2 separate regions of the Homo sapiens genome follow, and region 2 is linked to region 1. The links come from fine-mapping of genetic effects on gene expression. A gene starts in region 1. The other region holds a variant in brackets. All regions are shown on one strand. Distances are between the middles of the regions.

Region 1 (8,714 bases):
GTTTTCTGCATTTTCCAAATTTCCCACTATCAACATGTATCGGTCACTTAATATAAAAATAATTTTCAAGCAGGCAGCAATACCTGTGATGTGTTTTACAAGCCCTCCCCTCATCTCACAGCAGCAGGAGCTCACCCAAACTGTGTAGATTTGACTCCACTCTTCCATCAGAATGCAGTGCAGTTCATCAATCAGCTGTGTAAAAAGTGGAAGCAACTCCGGTATCCAGCGACAGATGAATGGTTGAACAAATGTGGTCTATCCATACAGTGGAATATTATTTGTCCTTAAAAAGGACAGAAATTCTGACCCATGCTACAACGTGGATGAAACTTGAGGGCATTATGCTATGTAAAATAAGCCAGTTACAAAAAGACAAAGACATTATGATTCCTTTTATAGGATGTTCCTAGAATAGTCAAATTCATAGAGACAGAAAGTAGAATGGTGGGTGCCAGGAGCTAGGGGGAGGGGAGTGAGGAGTTATTGTTCAATGGGTACGGAGTTTCATTTGGGATGATGAAAAAAATCTACAGATGGACAGTGGTGATGTCTACACAACAATGTGAATGTTCTTAACACGATGAACTATATACAGTTAATAATGGTTACATTATTATGGTAAATTATGTTATGTATATTTTACCACAAAAATAGTCTTTTTAAAGGTCAGCTGTGTTCATCTGGAATCACCTTAGGGCTGAGGCCTAGGAAATGGGATCGCTACATTGATCTGAAAGGTCAAATGGGACTTTCAGAGAAAAGTGGAACTTCCTGTCGTGAGGTCACTCCTTAAGGGTGACCACTGTATCTTATTCACCTCTTCCCTCCAGCCCCAAGCACAGCCCCAGCTTACTTTGTGGGTTCCAGGTGTTCAGAGCTACCTGCAAAAGGTACCCAGGGCAGGAGGAGGGCTCCAAGAGCCTGAGGAAGGAGACTAAGGCTTCTCACTTAATTTGGGGAGCAGCACTGCATCAAACATTTGCATTCATAGTGTGATTGTTTATCCTTTTCTTTGTTTATCTTTCCACTACCTCATTCATTTTGTTGTTGTTGTTGTTTCATGCTTGGACTGTAAGAGAATGTACTACCTCATTCTTCATCAGGGCCAACAGTGTGCCAGGCACTAGGAACAGGGAACTGAGTGAGCTTGAGTAGAGAAGAACCAAAAGGAAGGAAAATGCTAGAGTCTCATCCACTCGTCCACCCCTAATGTGGGGCATGACTTTATTCATTTAGCCCCATTGCTTCCAAAGCCATCCAGGGAGGCCCCAAGTTCCCTGAGGCATCCTTTCCAGGCTTTTTACAACTCTCCACATTGGGAAGCTTTTCCTCGAGTCTGAATCTGCATAAGCATCTGAGAGATGCTTGAGTTGTGTTGAGTTGAGTTTAGAGACCCTAGTGTTGTTATCCGAGATTAAATCTCGTTAATACCCAGGGGAAACTGCAGAGCAGGTGAAGTTTTTTTCTCTGCTCTCCGCAATCATTCAAACACCTGACAATCACAAAGCTGCCTTTCTGGTTCCTTGTCTCTTGTCTCTTTCATCCTTTCTACCTGGAGGATTTAGGATCCTCAAAGATCCCACACCCTTCCCCATTTACCTGTGGCTCAGTGCCATCTAGAAGTTTCATTTGCTAGTTAAAATAAAAAAGAGTTGTGAAATTCCATTGCTTATGTCTACTTTCATACAGGCGTGAAGTTTTTACTAGATATTAGAACACAGGGCTGATTTGGGGCAGGGAACGAGGATTTCAGAATCCCCCTTGATGTTAATTCCTAAAACGTCTTCCTAAGAACACTGTGCATTTATGTTGTTTTCAGGTTTACAAGGTACTTTTGCAGCTTTCACCTATTTGGGCCTCACGTGACCCCTAGGAGGGTGTGGGGAAGAGATATAATTATCCCTTTCATGTAAGTAAAAAAAAAAAAAAACTGATGTTCAGAGAAGTTGACCAAAGCCATATAGATAAAAAGTGATAAAGCTGAGATTCAAGCTAAGATCTTTAGCTTCGAAACTAGAATGCGATAAATTATAACGTGGTGTTAACTAGGGGGGCGATTTCGTATTAGCAATTCAGCCAGTACTCACCTGTGTTCCGTAGACCCTAGCACTGTGTCTGTCATTGCTAAGCCACCATCAGGACTGAGGTCTGTTGAGGACAAGTGAGGAGAGGGGACAGGCACCTCACCCCAAAGCTAGGCCCACCTGGATCCCAGATTCTAGCAGGTTCCTCTAGTGCAGATTCACTTTCTCATCCAGCCAACCAATATCATAGTTGCAAATTCCAAAGCTATCATCTGTTTCACCTTTTAACCAAGTGCATTTTTTAAAAAGGAGATTTTTTTTTCTCCATTAGTGAGAATAGGAATCCAAGCATGCTAACATTGCATCATTTAGAGATCCAAGGAGAGCCACCCGGGAACCCCCAGAAGAATGTGCAAATAAGATGCAGTGACTCTAGAGGATGTATTCCCAGCAAGATGCCTCAAACCTGCATCCCCTGTGATAAGCCCACTATATCATTTCATTTAATTTGTCACTGGAAACCAAAGGAGGAATTGTTCCAGGTGATTGACAGTAATTAGAGGGAACTTCCACCTCTGGTTAGGAAGATGTCAAAAAAAAAAGAGCTGCACACTTTGACCCTCTAAGTGGCTGGATTGGCAGATTTGGGGAAGGGGAGAGAGTGGGATGAGGTCCCTAATTGTAAAGTGGGTCTGGGTGAATGGGGTACACAGAGAAGCCTATGTAAAAGAGATTGCATACGTAAAGTGCTCGGACATCAGTGTCCCCACTGGGCTTGTGTCGCTGCTCACGTACACCAGTTCCAGGCCACCCCCACCCCACCCCCACACTCACTGCAGCATCTCTAGCCTGCCTGAATCCTGGTTCCGTGGAGGTCAAGGTGATTTGAGCTCACTTCCCTGTCCATGGTTCTACTAATTCTGTTTTCAACTTCTCACCCACCAGTCCACATTCTCCTCTTTTTACTAACATTTCCTTCTCCCAAAAGGCTGCTTCCATCCCACCTGGTTCCTTTCTGCTGTCCAGAACCTCCCCAAGCATACAGGTCTCAGCTTTTTCACAACTGGCAACATTACACTCCCAAAGAAGCCCCTCCATTAGAGAAACCAGTATGATTTCTTCTTCCAAATAAATGCACTCAAGGTGCTTAGGGGCTAGAGAGTGTAATTCTAGCTTTTATATCTGTTTTGCTCAATCACAGAAGTTTAACACTCAAGGTTGGGTGGGATCTTGAAGGTCATCTGAACAACCACACCAGCTGATGGAGGAATCCACTTCACAAATGCCAGCCTTGGAACAAGCCCAGCTGTAAAGAACTTGAAGAACCTTGGAAGGTATTTACCTTCTAAGTCAGTAAATAGCATTGCTGTCTTTTAGCCCTTTTAAAGGACATAGACAATTTACAGAATGAGTAAATAAATGAACAAAAGAATGGACAGCAGTAGTAAAGACATAGGAGCAGATACAGTGTAACAAAGCCACTATTCCTGAGACTGGGCTAGCCATCCTAGCCAGGAGGTGTTCATCGTCACCTGGCTGTGGACAGCTCCAGCAGGGACAACCAGGAGACTAAAATATTTCTAGGAGCAGGTGACATCCAGCATTCAGACATAACCCCCTCCTGAGTACCCAGAAACTGCTAGTATTTCTTTGACCCCATATCCACAAGCTCTCCACATGCATGCCGCCCTCAACATAAGCCTTGGGTACCTTTCTTACCTGTGGTTACAGAAGAAAACAGGTCATTGAAAGGATGCAGAGAACCAGCCTGGCTTGGAGATTCTGGGCAGCTGACAAAAGTCACCCCAGAAATAGAGTGGCAGGTACAGAATAGAGCTCAGTCACTTCATTTCATGGTCAAACAGAGGCTGAAGAGTGAGGGTTTAGGAGACACCCCGTCGAGCAGAAGACTTACATGAGAGGCATTTGGCTTCCCGGGGACAGCTGGGCAAGCTCTGCAGAGAGGTGGGTTTTCCTGGGGCTGTCCAGCTCTGGCAGCCAGAACGGCTTCATGCAGGTGCCACTGAGGACAGCCCAGGCAGCCCAGCACAAGCGATTCTGCAGGTGAAACCCAAGCCTGGCCCCAGGAGGGGATGAGGGCTCAGCACACAAGCACACAGGCTCACGCTGTTCTCTCTCTCTCTCACACACACACACACATACACACACACACACACACACACAGCCTCTCTGGAGGGGAAGGAGGAGGAGCCTGTGACTCTCCAGCCTATGTCCGGTGGGGACAGATGCAGCTCTGTCCAGTCACCACGATGCTCCCTTCCCTGCTCTCTGGACCCCTGGGCTCCAGGATCACTGCCTGGGGCCCCTGAGTGCACCCACAGGTTCTGGGTCCTGGGTCCTGGGTCTGTCTGTCAATACAGCTTCACTGTATGTGAATCCACTTCACAAATTCCAGCCTTGGAACAAGCCCAGCTGTAAAGAACTTGAAGAACCTTGGAATGTATTTACCTTCTAAGTCAGTAAATAGCATCGGAAAAATTGGAGTAAGGACAGAGCTGCCAGCCAGCCCACGGTTCTCTCCTTGCCCTCCTCCCCTGTGAGACCCCTCCCCCCACCACCCTAGAGGACCACCGGTCACTTGCGCGGCCACCCGGTGTGGCTGCTTCTCTGTCACCCCGTCAGCCTCCTTGCAGGTGACCTTGCCTTTGATTTTCCGGTGAAGCCTCCTTTTCTCTAGTATCAGATGAGTACTCCTGTCTCCTCCTGTGCATGGCGAATCCTGGCCCACTGTGATCTTGACATCACCCCATCTATTAACAGCCTGGGCTTTCTCAGATCCTCCCTCTCTGCCCCACTCGTTCCTTCCCTTCAGCCCCTAAAGAAGCTCATCCTCCACCCTAAAAACACTCTGCTTTCGGCCTTTCCCTCAAGCTACTTGCTAGCTCATCTCCCTTATTTTGTTAAAAGCAAAGGCCCTGGACATGACCCGGCCACAGACTGCTGAGGCTGAATTTCTAGCTCTGCTCTTGAACAGCTGCATAATCCTGGACAGGCCTCTTCAGCTTCCTATGCCTCAGTTTCCTCAGATGTAAAAAGAGGATGTGAACAATGGCTCCTGCCTCATAGGTTTACTATGAGGAGTCAATTAGCACAAATAAACACAAACACACACGTGCATTGTGTGTACACATGTGCATGCGATTGCTAGAATCATCTTTTGAGAGAATTAAAAGACATAAAATACCAAAAAACCATAAACACTCATATTTCCACTATTCATAATTAATAAATGTTAATATTTTACCATATTTACATATATATAAAGTTAGATGTATACATTTTTCATTTGGAGACTGAAGGAAGGAAGGAAGGGAAGGAGGGAAGAAATAAGAAAAAAGAAAAGAAAGGAAAGGAAAGGAAAGAAAAGAAAAGAAAATCACAGCTTGTATCCATCAGGATTCTTGGTTGCAAGCAATAAAAACCTACCAATTACTTTAAGTGGAGAATGGTTTTATTGAGGAACAACGGGTGGTTCACAGAAGCACCTAGAAATCTGGAGGGGCTGCTTGGAGAGCAGGGAGAAGAGGGAAGCCTCTGCCCCGCGGCCAGCATGGTGGGTCCTGCTGCTACAGAGCTGCATGTGAACCTGGCACCGTCATGGGTGCCGCTGTCACCGCTGTCCCTGGAAGCAGCCATCCCTGCTGCTGCCACCGCTGCCACAGTTAATTCTCCTCCAGCCCTGCTCCTTTGTGTCACTAGCTCTGCATACAAAGGTCGAAACAGATGCATCTGATTAAAGCATGTGCTCCCAAACCAGATGCCAGGAAGGCCAAGGAAGCAGGAATCTGGGGTTTTGAGCTTCTATGTGGAAGGTGGGCTCTGCCCACTTCAAGAGGGGGGACATTCCTGAAATATTTGAAAGTTGTTTCAATGCTGGAAAGCACCCCCCTCCCCGCCACACGAAATCTAGCTCTTTGGCTCCTAACATCAGTGCACACTCGACTTTCCATCATCACACTTTGAAAAAAAATGTTTACATCTAATTGTCCTAAAATTTTCACCCAGAATTTGTTTTAATCAGGTTTGGTAAGACATGCAGACACAGAAGTGACTGTCATAAAGGAAGGAGTTTATACTCACAGATCCCTAGAAACAGGAGGGGTGGCACATTCCCGCAGGGCCACACAGAGCAGCACCAGGGAGTGTCAGGAGGTGGAGGGCACAATGTGGGAAGCCTGGCCCCGAGCCTTTATGAGGTTTCCCCGGGAAAACCAGGGCAGTGCAAGGAAGCAGCTTGCGATGAGATAGTTGGAATAATCTTGGTGGGCTCTGAGCTATAGGGATGGTCTCTAATTGCCCAGTACCTAGCTCTGAGGTGATTTGTGGCAGGAGGAATACTGGCTCGGTGTGTGAGAGTTAGACAAATGGTGCTGTTGGGGATACTGAGTCAAGATTAGGCAGAGGGCTTGTACTATAACTGTAGTGCACCTGCAAAAGCTGATTGCAGGGGAGATGTAACAAAGTTGGCTGTTAGTTTGGCCGTGCATATAGTGGATGCCAAACATACAAATGTAGAATCTAGCAGAATGCAACCATTCCTCACACAAGCAAAAAGCCTCCCCCTAACCCCACCCTAACTCCACAGGGATAGAACCCCAAGTCTCACCAGTGACCATCCAGCTCCAAGTCCAGCCTCCTGCTCTAATTCCTGACACATGTGCCACCTTGAAATTCTGTTTTCTATGGAATAAATCATAACGTTCACTCAAAATACACACATAGAAAGTAATGGGGTGGGCAGAATATGAAATAAATTAGCAAAGCCAGTAAGAAAATACAGACAGGTACAGTGCTCATTGTAGTAATAGATCATGAGGTTAGAGTGGGTATGTATTGGTTTCCTCTCCAGCCATTCTCCAGAATAAGCATCTACTGTATTCCACAAAAGCCAGATTGCTGCCTTCTCAAGCATATAAGGCATTCACTACAATCAACTTGCCACCAAGTGAATAATTTGAACCTCTGGGCTCTGCCAGCACATCCAGAGACCAGGGTTTGCCACTACTGCTGGGAAGATGAGCATTCGGGCCACATTGGGAACAGCTTCTGTAATCGGAATCACTTAAGTTTACAATGAACCACTGACATTCTATGAGACCCATCTACCTTAGGTAGCATTTGGAGATCATCAAAATTACCACTTCTGCATCCTTACAGCCTTTGCTGGTGGCCCTAATCCTTGGGATTCCTCTGGAGACATTGTATTAATTGCATTTATGGTTTTGTTAGGTAGGGGGCACTACACAGCTTCCTCTTGCTTCCTCCTTCAGCAGACAGATGATGGACATGTGCCATTGATAGGTTTGGATTTGTGTTGCCACCTAAATCGCGTGTTAAATTGTAATCCCCAATGTTGGAGGTGGGGTGTGGTGGAAGGTGACTGGATCGTAAGGGTGGATTTCTCCCTTGCTCTTCTCATGATAGTGAGTGAGTTCTCACAGGATCTGGTGTTTAAGAGAGTGTAGAATCTCCCCCTTCTCTCTTCTTCCTTCTGTTGTAGCAATGTGAAGACGTGCCTGCTTCCCCTTTGCTTTCTGCCATAACCGTAAGTTTCCTGAGGCCTCCCCAGCCATGCTTCCTGTACAGCCTGCAAACCGTGAGCCAATTAAGACTCTTTTCTTTATAAATTACCCAGTCTCAGGTATTTACAGCAATGTGAGGATGGACTAATACAGCCATGCACTGAGAAGTTTCCCTAACTCTAACCTTCGGACTGAAGGTTCAAACCACTTCCTGCACTTTCCTGTAATTGAGATGATGGTTCTTCCTCACCAATGCACCTCTCAAGGTCTTGGAAAAAGAGGTCTCTGATGAGTCCTTCCACATCAGGAGGAAGGCGAGCAGGTCATATATTAAGAAATCCATTCCAATATTCCTGTTCCTCCAAGTCTTCCATTACATTGAACTAATTTCTGGTATCTCATCTTCACTTTGCATGGACTACCAGTTGAGCAAACTGTGAGTACTTTCTCCAGCTGTTCGACTTTGTAGACTAAACCCAAATCTTTAGAAAGCACACCCCTGTCAGCCAAACTCCACTTCAACTTTCTGTCCTTGGTCTAGGACCTCAAGAGTCTATTCCTGTGTATATTCACCAGATTGTGACCACAAACAAGCAGAATCTTGCAGACTTGGGGTGTGTTTTACGTTTCTTCTCAGGTTTTCCCATGCCCCACCTGCCAGGACATGTAGGGATCTGACTCTAGTTGAAGTCTAGAGGCAGGGAGGGGGTGGATCATGAAGAAAACTGGTTTACCTGGGGTGTGTGGTGTATCCTTCAGGCAAGGATGTGACAGGATTTTCAGCTTAGGCAGGAACAGGCTCATCAGGCAGAGAAAGAGAAACATTTTTCATTGGTAAGGAAGGCTCCATGGCATTTATCATGGAAACCTTCCCAATTCATTTTGTTGTTGTTGCTGTTGCTGTTGAGATGGAGTTTCGCTCTTGCTGCCCAGGCTGGAGTGCCATGGTGCGATCTCGGCTCAGCACAACCTCTGCCTCCCGAGTTCAAGCGATTCTCCTGCCTCAGCCTCCCGAGTCACTGGGATTACGGGCATGCGCCACAATATCCGGCTAATTTTGTATTTTTAGTAGAGATGGAGTTTCACCACGTTGGTCAGGCTGGTCTTAAACTCCCGATATCAGATGATCTGCCCGCCTCGACTC
Region 2 (8,714 bases), 89 kb after region 1:
AGAGGCTTGTGTGTCCTTCACCCTCTCCCCATTCAGCCAGGGCAGCACCAGGTCTCATCTTCTCTCTCTAGGAAGGCATGAGGTGAGATTTCCTAATCATTGTCACGTTGGGTTCAAAGTGGGAGATGTGGAGCCTCTGGTGTCCTCCAGCCTCCCTCAAGGGCCCTCGGTCTGCAATGGAGGAACTTGCCACATCCCTGCCCTCCCATCTTTTACCTGTGAGAGCACTGTGTGTGAGCTGAGGACAGCTGGGCTCTGGGGAAGCTGTCTCACAGCTTGTGAAGCTCCAGGCACCTGAGCCCTTGGAGGTCTTCAGAAAATATCTGTTTCCTTCTCCTTTAAGTTAGGGCTGAGATGACTCAGAAAGTTCCTGGGAAGTAAGATTTTTTAAACTCCTGATCCGCTCTTCGTCCTTGACCTTGAGATCGGCAGGTCTTTCTAATTCCTGCCCCCATGGTGCACGCCTGCCAAGGGATACAGGATTCCTTTCATGATCTTGTCCTCCTGTGCACATGGAAGCCTCCCATTATTCCTTCTAGGGCCTGGAACGCCAGGCTGAGGGATGAGGCCTTTCTCCTGGAGCCCCTGAAGGTTTCTGAGCAGGAGAGGTGACAGGGCCTCCTCCTCCTCCTTTCTCATCTCCCCAAACCTTTCTGGGATGTTTATTTGTGAGATCTGAACCAGGCTGGTTCCATGAGGATGTTGCAGGCCTTGGTAGGCTGGGTACCTAAGAGAAGTCTTAGCAGGAGAATTTTGGCCTTTGGTTTGTGGAGAGGGTATTTATTGTTGGCAGATGGAGGTTGGAGGAAAGGAAGAAAGGGGTGTTGTGGGCTGCAGAGGCCCCCAGAGCCAGGCAGGCAGGCCTCCCCTCAGCCCTGAACCATGTCGCCACTGGGTCATCTAACAGGCCACTTAGATGAGGAAACTGAGACCCCGAGAGAAGACAGGCAGGCCACATCACACAAGCTAAGTCATAGCAGATTTGGGATGAGAACCCAGACAGCACTGAATAAACTTTTCTGCCCTGAGGGGCCTCGCACCTCAATCTGATGTGCCTGGGAGTGTGCCTGCTGCCCCGGGAAGCCTAACTGGTCTCTTGTGTCCTTTTTGCTTCTTGCTGAGCCCAGCCTGGGCATAGTGGTAGATGTGACTGCAGCTGGCGTCGTTGGGTCTGGAATGCAAAACATGGGAATCAGGCCTGGCACCCCGGCCAGCCAGGTGAGTCCACCTGCTTCCCCTGCAGTGCTGGCTCAGCTCTGTGGGGGCCTCATACCCAGCCCAGCTGGCCCCCTTTGGCAGAGATGCAACAGGTGCCCTCCAGGTATGTCACTGCCTTCTCTGGCTGACAGTCACGATGAGGAAGGGACCCTGCTGCATGTCGGTGCTCTGACAGTTGCACAGTGCCCTCCCACCTTCGTCTCTTAGGAGCTTCACTGCCACCCTGTGGGAAGGGATGGGCAGGGATGGGGTGCAGGGAAGGGGTGCCATCTCCACTGAAGATCTGAGCCAGAGCTGTGCAGGGGATGGGGCTGTCCAGGTTAGCAGGTGCAGGGAGGGGTCAGGATAGGAGCCCAGTGCTTGTGGACCTGGAACCCCTACCTTATAGTCATTAAAAAGCATTTCTTACACTTCACAAGAGACCATTTGGGGAACTGGTTAAGAGCACAGGTCTGGGACTCAGCCCTGGGTTCAAAGCCTGGCTCCACCACTCACTGGGTGTGGAATGCACATTTGGTTGCTTAGCTTCTCTGGACATCCCTGTAAAAAAGCATCACCCCCAATGGGGAGAGCAATCCTCAACTCGTTGAAGAGGAACTTAGATAGCACATGTTACATGTGTGGCCAACCAGAGGACAATTCAGCGGATGCCTGTGTCAGGAGCCACCCTTTGGAGGGCAGTCACCTTGAGCTTTCAATATTAGGAGGGGCTTCCTCTCTGCCAGGCTGGGCCTCCCTGGAGCAGGCTGCTGGGGTGCTTGCAGAGGCTGGCTGCTCATTTGTCGGAGACGTACAAGACACTCCTGTGCTGGTGCAGTGGTGCACACACTCAGCTGTGCTTTCTTTCTCCTGTATGAGCCCATTTGCACTAGGGGCCATGTGGCTTTGGCCCCTGGAGCATCATGGCTAAGTGCTGGGGCTCCACCACTATTGTCTGTGTAACCTGGGGCAGGTCTCTTTACCTCTGGCTACCTCAGTTTGCTTACCTGGAAAATAGGAATGCTCATGATAGCCATGCATGTGAGGGACTTAGAAGAGTGTATACAGTTAGTGCCCAATAAGTGTTTATGATGGTTTTGCTTATAAGACAAGCCCTTTTCCAGAGCCCACACTTGGTGCTGACTTAGAAGCTTCAGCATTGCCAGGGGTTAGACCACATGGGTCATCTAAGTTTCCTCTCGACTACACAAATTTCCTCTTGGTTCTGCATACGTTTCCTCTCAACTAAGCATACCCTGCCTTCTCCAGGGGTTCTGATGAAGGCAAGCAGCCAAGCAAACACTGTCTGACTGACTTCTAGGAGTTTGACCCCAGGTAGTCCAGGCTCAGAGCAGCACTGAGACCAAAAGCAAACAGCCCAAGTCTGGGCATGGTGGCTCATGCATGTAATCCCAGGATTTGGGAGGCTGAGGTGGGCAGATCACTTGAGCCCCGGAGTTCGAGATCAGCCTGGCCAATATGGCAAAAACCCGTCTCTACCAAAAAAAAAAAAAAAAAAAATTTAAATATTAGCCAGGTGTGGTGGCACATGCCTGTAGTCCCAGCTTGGGAGGCCGAGGTGGGAGGATCACTTGAGCCCAGGAGAGTGAGTGCAGTGAGCTGAGATCACGCCACTGCACTCCAGCCTGGGCTACGGAGTGAGACCCTGTCTCTAGTAAATAAATAAAAACAGCCCAAAAGCAATTTCTAAGGGATGCACTTTGTTTTTATTTGTATTTCTTGAATTCTGTGAAGGGAAACCTAATTCCCAGTGACTGCTCCTTAAAACTCACTCTGCTTTCTCTTGGGCATCACATACACACCCTCGTTGCTCCTTGCCCTTCTCCTCCTCCCTCTTTTCATCACAAAATCCTCAAAAAATCACCAGGCAAGACGGGAGCATCTGAGGGGATGGGGCTGCGGAAGGGGAAGGACTGAGGCCATTCGCATCCATCATTCTTGCGCCCTCCCAGGTAAGAGGCTTTGCAGCAAAGCATAGAGGGATGTGTGGGTCCTGATTCCCCAGAGCCCAGCATGGACATTCTCATTTCCTCCTCAAAGCTGGGTTCACTGCCCGAGGGAGCCCAGTGGTAACTGAGGGTGAAGGATGACATGAGAGCCACCCCCTTCCTCAAGATTTGGCCCCAGTCCTAGTCCACTATCCAGGACTTATGTCAAATCGGTTGCCTCAGTTTCTACAAAATGATCAGCAAAGTATGAATGTCATTGAGGCTGGGCGCAGTGGCTCACCTGTAATCCCAGCACTTTGGGAGGCCGAGGCGGGCGGACCACCTGCAGTCAGAAGTTCGAAGCCGGTCTGGCCAACATGGTGAAACCCCGACTCTACTAAAAATACAAAAAATTAGCCGGGTGTGGTGGCAGACACCTGTAATCCTAGCTACTCGGGAGCCTGAGGCAGGAGAATCGCTTGAACCTGGGAGACAGTGGTTGCAGTGAGCCGAGATCTCACCTCTAGCCTGGGCAACAAGAGCAAAACTCCATCTCAAAAAATAAAAAAATAATAAAAAAAAAGAAAAAGAAAGTCATTGAGTGGCCACAGATCAAAATACACACAAGAGTTTCTGGCTTTTCTTAGGAGCCCAGCTGAGCAGGTCTGGAAGCCAGTGGAAGGGGCTGCTGTTTTTTTTCACAACTTACCCTGATATTCCCTCATTTTATCCTCACCTCAATAGTTATAACTATTATCTCCATTTTACAAACGAGGAAACAGGCTGAATAACACACCCGAGGTCATACAGCTAGCAAAGACAGTGCCTGTTGCGCATTGGTTTCTGGATCCTGTGGAAGTGTTTTGCAGGCCAGCTCTCATTTGCTTCCCTGGATCTTAGACAAAAGCTAGCTTTTGTAAAACTCATTCTGATGCCCTCACCCTGCTCCCCAGGTGCCCCATTTCTGCCAATTTCCTATCTCTGGTCTTTGCTCACTGTTAATGAGAATTAGTTCAGCTTTATGTGTTCTCTCACCCCAAGCTCCTGGCCACCAACTGCACATGTCAAAAGCAATTTCCATCAAAA[T/A]TAGCAGGTAGCGGAGTGTGAAGTGCTTAAACAGCGTCAAGAGAGGTTTCCTCTGGAGATGCCAGGGGAAGGTGTAGAAGTCAGTCATCAGATTTCCACTGGGCACCCTGGTCTTTGCAGAAACCCAAAGACATCTGGCTGGGTGTGGCTGAATAGGAGGATCTAGTTCCGAAGGTGGATGGGCACGTGGATGAGGGGAGGGACAGCTTGGCCAACACATTGCCCAGGAAAAGCAATAGGCAGAGAAGTGCCTGGGACCCTGGCTCCTGGGCTGGCCTGACCCCAGATGCACACACATCCTCATTTTGTCTTCCCAAGGCCCTTCCCCCAGGAACCCATGGCTCCTTGAAGCCTAGTCTCCTCTTAGAGCTGCCCTGGGCAGAGGAGGCCTTGCTGCATCCTGACTGTGAGGCCCACAGGGTGCATGGGCAGCGGTTCTGGGAGGATAACCCAGGTCCCCTCATGCAGTGTTGGGCCCACCCCCTGTGGGGAACTGATGCCCACTTAAGCATAGCCTCCCTTTCCCCATCTCTACTGTTCTTTCCCATGACAATGAGACCCCTCAGGTTGTGACAGTAGACCCTGGCTCTTCAGGCCCCCTGAATTGGGGCAAGGGAGATGACCTCACCACCCTTTCCTTGGCCCTGGGGACACTGTGGCCAGGACCCTTCTGAGCAGGTCAGTGAACCTGGAGGAACTGCAGGAGGTAGCAGAGGCATGGGCAGGAAAAGGGGTTGAGTAGAGACTTGCCACAGGAGACATGAGGCTGGTGTGAGCTGCCGCTCCTGGGAGGGCATTAACCCTCAGCTGCACTGAGCCCCAGAGGATATGCCTGGGATTCCCTTTATAATGGTTTCTTCACAGCAAGGTGGGTGGAGTCATTTTCAGGCTTATTTGGCTGCTTAAGGTGACATGCAGGGTATTTGGATCTGGATAACGGGGGGCTTGTAATTTATAGCAGTGCTTTTTGAATGAATGAAAAACAGTGTTGTATGGACAAATGGATGGATGGATGGATGGATGAAGGACTAGATGGGTAGAGGGATAGATAAAGGGATGGATGAAGGGACGGATGGATGGATTGATGGATGGATGGATGGTTGAATGGATGAAGGGATGGATGGATGGATGGATAGATGGATGGTTGGTTGGTTGGAGGGATGAATGAAGGGATGGATGGATGAATGGATGGATGGATGGTTGGTTGAAGGGATGGATGAAGGGATGGATGGATGAATGGATGGATGGATGGTTGGTTGGTTGGAGGGATAGATGAAGGGATGGATGGATGGATGGTTGGTTGGTTGGAGGGATGGATGAAGGGATGGATGGATGAATGGATGAATGGATGGAGGGAAGGATGGGTGGATAGATGGATGGATGGGTGGATAGATGGATGGATGGTTGGATGGGTGGATGAAGGGATGGATGGATGGATGGATGGATGGATGGTTGGTTGGTTAGAGGGATGGATGGATGGATGGTTGGATGGATGGATGAAGGGATGAGTGGATGAATGGATAGCTGGATGGTTGAATGGTTGGATGGATGGATGAAGGGATGGATAGATGGATGGATGGTTGGTTTGAGGGATGAATGAAGGGATGGATGGATGGACAAATGGATGGATGGATGGATGAAGGGATGGATGAAGGGATGGATGCATGGATGGATGAAGGGATGGATGGATGGATGGATGGACGGATGGATGGATGGATGGATAGCTGGATGGATAAAGGGAAGGATGGATGATGGATGGATGGTTGGATGGATGAAGGGATGGATGGACGGATGAAGAGATGGGAGAATGGATGATGGATGGATAGATAGATGAAGAGATGGATGGATGGGTGGGTGGTATGCAGCATACCTGAAGTGCCTGGAATCCTAGATCCATTCTTCATATTCACTAAGCCATAGGACTCAAATCTATGGTTTCAAGTTCCTTGAAGTTTGGGCTCTTCTCTAGTCATATTGAATAAGGATTCAATATGAGCAGATCCTCTGTGCAGATGGAGTTGGCAATAATTTGAGCAGTACTGACTCAAGAAGATGAAGATCATGGGCTTTGAAATCAAATGAACCCAATTTTGAATGCTGGCTCTGCAATTCCTAAGCTGTGAGCGTGTGCCAGTCATTTAATCCTGCTGAGCCTTAGTTTCCTCATCTACGGAGAGTGTTAATAATGTCTACCTTAAAGTATTGAATCTGAGGATTAAGCCAGATAATACATGTAAAGCATCTAGTTTAGTGTTCAAACATGCCCCGCATGGCACTCAGTAGGTGACAAACAGAAACTTGTTTTCTAGCCCCCAGTCTAAAATCCTTCCCACTGGAATTTCTAATACTTTAAGACTTGGGGCAAAGACCTTCACTCCAGAAGCCCCCTCCTCAGAGGCATGAGTTTGGGGAAAATCTTTACCCAGAACTCCCAACTGGTGGTTGAAAAAGTGATTCCACAGTTCCCGGGGTACAGCATGGATCCCTGAGGTGCCAATGCTGGGCCTGCAGAAATCATTCAGCAAATGAGATGCCTGATGTCTTAGCCCAAGAGAGTGGGGCAAGTTCAGGACAAGAGCATTCCGTAGAATTGTTGGGCTTTGAAAAGGCATGCCTGAGCCAGGGAGCCCCGTGAGGAAAGGGGCAGGGAGGAGGACACTGGAATGAGGAAGGGAGGCTGGATGTTCACTGGCCCACACGGCTCCACCTGGAGCCGTCCCAGACTCTGAGCTTTTTGGGGTGACCTTGGGTGTGCTTCAACCAGCCACAGTCCCTCAGAGCAGTGCCAAGGGGTTCACCAAGGCCACTTGTTCACACCAAACAGGGTTTAAAAGGCATTTTCATATTCTGCCCAGTGCCAGGCATGCTGATTGAGAGGGATTGTGGATTTGGCATTTGGGGCTCATATGACCCATGGGCTCACCTTGAGAGCCATGAAATACCATTCTGAGCTCCCACCATGAAGACGGAAGAGATTTTCCTCCAGCCCTCATGCCTCTGTTGATCGTGGCCTTTCCCCTCTCTGCCTGTCAGGAGTGAACGCTCCCTCCTGGCTATGCAGCAGAATGTGGCAGGGACTCCCACAGAGGTGCAACCCAGGGAGGGACCTTTGTCAGGCCTGTGCTGGGCAGCCCAGTGACCCTTTCTTCTCCTCAACAGTCCCCTCCAGGACAGCCTGCATCTCTCCCCCTCAGCAGCTCCTGCCGTCATCTCTGCCCTTCAGGGTCCTTCTGGCCTGGACTGGACTGGCTGCAGAAGTGATAATAGGTCTTTTGCTTGGCTCATTCCTGCTGTCTCTGAACCAAGTACACCAGCCTTTCTCAGTTAAACGGTTTCTAACATACAGGGAATTATGGAAATAGCATGCAGCGAGGGGTCCCAGAGCAGCCCGTCTTGGTCTGTGCACTGAGGTTAAGCTCTGCGCGTGGACTCGTGAAGGAACTTCAGCCTTAGAGCTGGGCCTCCAGGACCAGCAGAGGAGCCAGCCTGCCCTTGGGGCTTGAAGTTGAAGGCAGTATCCAGTGCAGAGGGCCTACCCAGGAGCTAAAGAAATAATTCAAGCCTGGCAGAGACGGCCGAGGCAAAGACCATGCCTCAAGTCCGGAACATGGGAAGGAGGTGTGGACGAGGCTGGGCAGAGTGAGCATGGCCTGGAGAGGATCCTAGGGGCTGGAATACAGAGCCAAGTCCATTTTCTCAGGGTCCATGTTCAAGAGGTATTTAGGATGAGGAACCAACAGGACTCGGCAGCTGAGTGTGTGGTGAGGTGGCAGGAAGGAAGAGTCAAGGATGATGGGGCCACCATCAGTAGAGAATCCAGGAGGCTCGGCAGGGGCAACAAGGTGATTGTTTCCTTTGGGAACTTGAGTTCGAGGGGTCTCAAGCGGAAGTGTCGGAGCAGCTGCTTTGAAGTTCAGGAACTCAGGGGCTGGAGGTACAGATTGAGATGTCATATTCACCAGCTAGAGAGGCCATAGCAAATACCACAGGCTGGGCAGCTTCAACAGCAGATATTTATTCCCTTGTGGTTCTGGAGGTAAGAAGTTCAAGGTGAAGGTGCTGGCAGGGTTGGTTTCTCCTGAGCCTCTCTCCTTGGCTTGCACATGGCCACTTTCTTCCTGTGTCCTCACATGGTCATCTCTCTGTGTGCCTATGTTCCTAATCTCCTGTTCCTATAAGGACACCAGTCACATTGGATTAGGGCCCCTTCATATGACCTCACTGAACCCTAATCACCTCTTTAAAGACACAGTCTCCAAAGACAGTCACATTCTGAGGTGCCAGGGGTTAGGAACTCAACGTAGGACTTTGGAGGAGGCACAGTTCAGGCCATAACAAGGGTCATCAGCTCCAAGACAAGTGACCGCAAGAGTGGAGGGGACACCCAGGGAGAATGGGTTTGGGTGACAAGAGGGCCTTCGAGGACAGGAGCATTCCACGGGTGAGAGGACGCAGAGGCTGCCATGAAGGAAACAAAGGGGA

What was found.
Region 2: its variant is fine-mapped to the expression of CHRNA2 in cerebellar hemisphere (GTEx, PIP 0.99). The same link has a PIP of 0.9 or more in cerebellum.

What each region holds. Positions count from the first base shown.
Region 1 is chr8:27,475,078-27,483,791 of GRCh38, forward strand. CHRNA2 (cholinergic receptor nicotinic alpha 2 subunit) reads right to left here and starts at 4,184. Exons shown (of 7, transcript NM_000742.4): 1 at 3,747-4,184.
Region 2 is chr8:27,564,328-27,573,041 of GRCh38, forward strand. No RefSeq gene overlaps it. Among named protein-coding and RNA genes, the nearest start is that of MIR6843, 42 kb to the right of the region's middle. The variant T/A (reference allele first, on the strand shown) is at 4,233.